2 linked regions of the Homo sapiens genome follow. The protein of the gene in region 1 interacts with the protein of each later gene in a pairwise test. Each region holds a gene or a part of one and is shown on either strand. Other genes may lie near its edges.

What was found.
Region 2: the proteins of MKLN1 (region 1) and MORC3 interact in a two-hybrid assay, tested with the Homo sapiens proteins (one large-scale study listed by BioGRID and IntAct).

Annotation. Positions count from the first base shown.
Region 1 is NC_000007.14:131,491,851-131,494,806, reverse strand, and holds part of MKLN1 (muskelin), read right to left. Parts: 3' UTR 1-2,956. UniProt on the Homo sapiens protein: Component of the CTLH E3 ubiquitin-protein ligase complex that selectively accepts ubiquitin from UBE2H and mediates ubiquitination and subsequent proteasomal degradation of the transcription factor HBP1.
Region 2 is NC_000021.9:36,336,950-36,340,777, reverse strand, and holds part of MORC3 (MORC family CW-type zinc finger protein 3), read right to left. Parts: coding exon 3,772-3,828; intron 3,047-3,771; coding exon 2,832-3,046; intron 2,005-2,831; coding exon 1,857-2,004; intron 1-1,856.

The sequences.
Region 1 (2,956 bases):
CTATCTACTTTCTTTTCAAAAGACATTTCACACAAATCCAAAAAGTAAGCCGGCTTAAAGAATAAGACAATCATAACACCTCTTGCCCAGGCTAATTGTAATGCTTAGGAAAGGAAGTCCACTTTTATTTTTCTGAACGGATGATTTGTAAGTAAGGAAGAAAATTGTTTACAATTGATCAGTCACCAAAATAATTTTTTTTTCTGGGAAAGGAAAAAAAATCCCAAGAAAAAGATCAGTACATGACTCTTTAATAAATTTATCTTCCCCCACGGAAGACTACTCCTAAGTAACCTTTTGGACTTTGATATCTTATTAAATTTGGGAGTGAGTTGATAATTACTTGGTATTATTTATAACTTGGTATTATTTGAGGCAACACACTACAGCTGTCACTTGCAAACACCTGATGGCATGGCTCTAATGGTGTAGGATCCTCTCCTTTGTTGTAACTGAATTTATAAAGATTTATAAAGCTCTGCCAGTTGCAATGGGATTGGGATTTATTCTACACGCCTCCTCTAATTTAATCAATCACTTTACAGATGTGGAGGAAACCTAAATAAAAAACCAAAATTATGAAATACTTCTAATGCCAAACCCAGATCTCATTATTGCTTGGCAAAGCAGAATTAACAGAGACCCTTGGGATGACATATAATTAATTTAAGGCAAGGAAACTAGTATCAGTTCAATTCTGTGTTACAAGTTATACATGAAATGACAATTTTCCTCCTATGTTAAAGGGCTAGAAAATAAAACCAACCAAATGACATGAGCTAAACTGTAACAAAGGCTTTCTTGAGATTTGTTAACAACGGAGAAATAAAGCTCAAAATTGGCTTTTTGAGTGGCTCCTTATTCATGCACACAGGCTTGTTCAGTATATCACACAGTGTTTCTTCTTCCTGCCAATTAATTTGGCATTCATTAAGTAATGAATGAAACTGAAGAATGATGATCTCCTCAGGCTTTGTGTGGCAGACAGCTCAGATATCTGAGCTAACTGCTGTGACTGCTAGCATCCCAGATGGTACAGAGCTATGTTGCAGCAAGAGCTTAAACTCAGTGAATAAGCAAGGGAGCCCCCAAACTGCATGTTGAAATGTTTTATGGCTGGTTTTCCTGCTGGATCCTTAACAAGGAACTGGTTGTATGTAAGAAGCTGCTCACCTAGTTTAAGATCTAGAGCCCATTAACACTGGATTTTCTGTTTTAAGATCTCAAACAGTTATTTGGAAGAAGGGAAATGCTACTTCCCAAGAAATGCTACTTCCCAAAGACTATTCAGAATTACTGAATATTCTAGAAGCATGAGCTTTGAGGCCTTTTGGTAGTCTTCTTCCCAGCATCTCATTAACAAAATTATTTTAGGGTTAGAAATGAAGAAATTTATTTTTCCTTTCGATTTGTGGACCTCTAAAATCCATAAGCAAAAAGCTCCTATTTTTCCTTCTCTAACATACCCTCATTGTCTTCTCTAGCTCGTTCCTGAAGTTTAATACTTCCAAGTCAAAATGCCTTAGATAAGCAAAATAGGACTTTGCACACAAATGTTTAATAGTTCACTGAGGCTGTCTGAAAAGCAGATAAAAAGGAAGACATTATTTTATAATTAAAAGTGATACCTTAGAACTGGTCCAATTCCCTACCAAACATTTCCCCTTTTTTGCCATTGATCCTACAGCTTTCAGACAACATTCATGTTAAATTCTGTTTTCCAGCAAGCTCAGCAGTGTTTGGGGATAGACAGCACATTGCAAATCTTATTTCCAAATAATGATTCTAATTAAGAAGATAAACTAGGACTACCCTTTCATTTTTGTGTTTTTAAGCTGTTAAGTGGGATCCAGTTCACAATATAAAACTTTAGCCAAAAAGACAGTGATAATTTCCCCGATGGCATTTCTCTCTGCACCACTAGAGAAACTAATTTACTATAACCTCTAATGACTCCTTAGGTTAAGGGCTACAGAAGCTACCGTCAGATGATTTCATTGGCTATGACTGGCCTAAGAGTTAGTCATTTGGAATTGGAGCTAAATTCACATTCTTTTTTTTTTTTTTTTTTTGAGACAGGGTCTTGCTCTGTTGCCCAGGCTGGAGTGCAGTGTCGCAATCATAGCTCACTGCACCCCAAACTCCTGGGTTCAAGTGATCCTCCCACCTCAGCCTCCCAAGTAGCTGGGACTACAGGCACATACCACCACACCTGGCTAAAAAACAAAAATATTTTAAGTAGAGATGGAGTCTTCCTGTGTTGCCCAGGCTGGTCTGAAATTCCTGGGCTCAAGCAATCTTCCCGTGTCAGCCTCCCAAAGGTCTGGGATTACAGGCGTGAGTCACTATGCCCAGCCTAAATTCACATTCTTGAGGGGAAGAGACATATATAAGGCTGCATTATTTTTATTTAAGGAAAAAAAAAGAAAAAGAAAAGCAATCATTTCATGGCAACTGAAGCCACTTCTAATATTCAACTATTTCAGAAGTTTAAAGTCAATTCTTAACACAAATTCTAACTTCAGCAGAAATCAATGTTACTCATGGGAGGTAGGAATAGAAACAAAAAGGTTAAAAAATACAATAAAAAGAAAAGACAAAAGGTAAATGGAAATTCTGATGATATGCTGAATTCAGGAACTCTGCTATCAAACCTGTACTTTACCAATAGTTCTATGACAAGAGATCCTAATGCCAGAAAAAGAGGCCAACACAGGTTTCTCCATTAAAGCTGCCACAGCCATTATTACTATCCCCAAATGAAAATGACTCAAGTACATTTATAGCAATATCTGAATGTTATTAATTTCTTATGAATTTCATTATTCTCTTGTCATAAATAAGGATAATAGAGCATTTGCCCCAGAATGATTTTGATCTTTTTTTTTCCAAGCAATACAATGTCCTACAGAATGCCACAGAAAATCTAGGAAGTCTAGGGCTAAAAAAAAGTGAA
Region 2 (3,828 bases), on another chromosome or scaffold:
ATAATCCCAGCCACACGGGAGGATGAGGCAGCAGAATCGCTTGAACCCGGTGGGCGGAGGTTGCAGTGAGCCGAGATGGCGCTATACTTCACTCCACCCTGGGGGAAAGAGCAAAACGCTATCTCAAAAAAAAAAAAAAGAAAGAAAGAAAGAAAAGAAAAGAAAGAAAAAAAAAAGAAAAAGGAAAAGGTGCAAACTATACATACAAGAACCTGGAAAACGCCAGGAGTTATGCTAAGTGAAAAAAGTCAAATCCAAAAGGTTTCCATGTTGTTTATGTAATATTCTTAAAATGGCAAAATTATAGAAATAGAGAACAGATTAGAGGTTGCCACGGATTAAGGAGGGAGTGGGGTTATGAGGGAAGTGGGTATGGCTACAAAAGAGCAACATGAGGGATTCCTGTGATGACTAAAGTGTCCTGCATCTTGACTGTATCAACATCAAAATCCTGTCAATATCAATAGTACTACTGTACTATAGTTTTTTTTTTTTTTTTTGAGACAGAGTCTCGCTCTTTCGCCCAGGCTGGAGTGCAGTGGTGCTATCTCGGCTCACTGCAAGCTCCGCCTCCCTGGTTCACGCCATTCTCCTGCCTCAGCCTCCTTAGTAGCTGGGACTACAGGCGCCCGCCACCGCGCCCAGCTAATTTTTTGTAATTTTAGTAGAGACAGGGTTTCGCCGTGTTAGCCAGGATGGTCTCGATCTCCTGACCTCATGATCCACCCGCCTCAGCCTCCCAAAGTGCTGGGATTACAGGTGTGAGCCAGTGTGCCTGGCTGTACTATAGTTTTGTTAGATGTTACCAGCAGGGGAAACTGAATGAAGTGTACCTAACATCTCTCTATTACTTCTTACAACTACACATGAATCTACAATTACCTCAGAAAGTATAATTGAAAAAATCCTCCAGGAGAAGGAGGGGTAGGGAAGTGAAAGCAAGAAAAACGAATTCAGGTATCAGAATAGCACAAGTTTTTTCAGTTCTTTAGGCTTATCACTACCTGTGCTTTATTCCTGTGATTCAGTATGTCTTAGATCTTTCAGTATTAGACATTAGTCTTAAATTTTAAAATTTATTTGCGAAGGATTTTATCCTCACAAAGATAAAGGATTATAAATTTTAGCAACACAAAAATCTCACCTATATTACTTTTCTCATCAGGTGCTACATCACTTTTAGTTTTAAGTAATGTACACAATGAAGAAAGATTTATCCTCCTGAATTTGTCTTCTCATTGCTTTTTTTCTTTTTTCTTTTTTTTTTTTTTTTTTTGAGAAGACGGGGTGGAATAAATGAGAGAGAATAGAGTGCTAATGGAGACTGAATGGCAGGGATAGAAAAAAATTTTTTTTTTTGGCCGGGTGTGGTGGCTCACGCCTGTAATCCCAGCACTTTGGGAGGCCAAGGCGGGTGGATCACCTGAGGTCAGGAGTTCTAGACCAGCCTGGCCAACATGGTGAAACCCTGTCTCAACTAAAATACAAAAGTTAGCCGGGCATGGTGGCAGGCGACTGTAATCCCAGCTACTCGGGGGACTGAAGCAGGAGAATCGCTTAAACCTAGGAGGCGGAGGCTGCAGTCAGCTGAGATTGCGCCATCGCATTCCAGCCTGGGGAACAAGAGTGAGACTTCGTCTCAAAAAAAAATTTTTTTTAACAAGATGAAAATATCTCAAATTGAAGCTGAAATGGCCTCTATAACATATCCTGGGCAAAGACAAATCAGTAACTACACCAAAAAATGAGTACCTTTCCATGTATTTCTACTGTGTGTAACGAGAGATGAATATAACACCACCACCCTGCACGTGCACTTTACTTCCCAAACGGTCAACATCTATGTCCACGTTTACCTTCTAAGATTCCAAATGATGATCCTCGTCCCCTTCTTGCCTATAATAGCATCAAGTTCTGCCAGTAACTTCTGTTCCGTGGAAAACAGAGAATGTTCCAGAATTGCAGCAAGGCTGGCTTTTGATTCTGCTAAATTAATCATCTGTCGTATATCATAAGTTAAAGACTCAGATTGACAACATAGTTTTCATAATTACAATATGAAAACTAACTCTATAAACTTAAATAACAGAAAAACTATTTATAAATAATTTTCTAAGGTTTTTTTTTTTGTGAGATAGGGTCTCACTATTGCTTAGGCTAGAGTGCAGTAACATGATCAGGGCTAACTGCAGCCTAGCTGGGACCGACCACAGGCACCCACCACCACGACCGGCTAATTTTTAAATTTTTTTTGTAGAGATAGGGTCTCCCTACGTTGCTTGGGCTGGTCTCAAAATTCCGGGCTCAAGCAATCCTTCTGTCTTGGCCTCCCAAAGTGGTGGAATTTCAGGGATCAGCCACCGAGCTCAGCCTATTTTCTAAGTTTTAACATGGCAGTTTGATTTCAAATGAACAAGAAGAAGAATAAAAAATAAGCAGATTATTATTCCTAACTAACTTAATACTTTCTAATATTCCAATGTGTTCATACAAAAGGCATTTTCCTAAAGTTATCCTGCCTTTTGTGGTCACTAGTCAAATTTTCAAGCCAAACCATAAAGTCTTACTAGTCTACAATAACCCTGAAGTAAACAGAAGAGCTATGGGAAGTTTAACATAAAATGTTGAGTATTTCCATAGCAGGATTCCAACAGAGAAGAGAAAGGGACAAACCCTTAGCCTCAGGTGTAGGGTAAATGCAGAGGACAGAGGTAAGAAATGGAATAGGTGTTATTCAAAGGGAATAATCTGGAAGAAGGCAAAAACATAGAATGTTTCCAAATTATTTCTTCAGTTTCTCCACAGCTTTTATTTCACAACCAAAAGGATATGGTGCTTGTTGAATGCCACTATTGGAACAACAACATGCTCCGCTTTTATGACTTCCAAGTAGGTCTGAGACAAAAGGCCCACGCTCATGCTTTCTCCATTTTTGGTAAAAACGATTGCGTCTTTACCCAGACGCATAGAACCCGACTTGAAGCCATTCCCATATAATCCAACTGGGACATGACCATTCATGGTGACTTTGTCACTGAAGCCAAAGCTAAGAAGAAAATAAAGATTTTTAAAAATAAATACCTATAATCAAAAATAAATAAATAAATAAATACCTATAATCTTTTTTTTTAATTCATTAATTGTAATACCAAGTAAAAAGCCTGGGTTCAAATACTGGCCTCACCCTTCCTAGCTGTATAATCTTGGGCAGATTACTTTTTTGTTGTTGTTGATTTTTTATGTATCGGGCAGATTACTTTTAATCTATCTTGACGTGTTTTCCCAGCTCTGAAATAAGGAAACCAAATCTACATCACAGGGGAGAAAAAGGATCACAAGTACTAACATGCAAACTCATCGCTGGCACACCCTGACTAAATAGCTGAGTATAACCCATGCTTCCGGGACTGTGAGATTTCACCCCATGAATCTCTTCCTCTAAAAGTTACTCCCAACAAAGTGGTAGGTTTTATTACAAACAATGGTTAAACCTAATTTACACTAAAGTTATCAGTAATTGATATAAATATACTACAACTCTAAAGGAATGGTGGACTTTTAGGGAGTTGGAAGTAGGGTGGGGTAGGTGATGACAGTGGTGAAGACTGACTCATCATCTACCAGTAGTAGAAAATCATGCTTAGAGAACAGCTCACACTGTACATACAGCATTTCATTTCAAAAAACAAAAACCAAGAATAGTAAGTATGGCATGGAAAACCCTTTAGGTAAAAGCAACAATTTTAAGAAGTGTGGCACATTTTTACCTACCTTAGCATTTTATGTAATTTATCAGAAGTCATACCATTCCCATTGTCGGTGAATGTC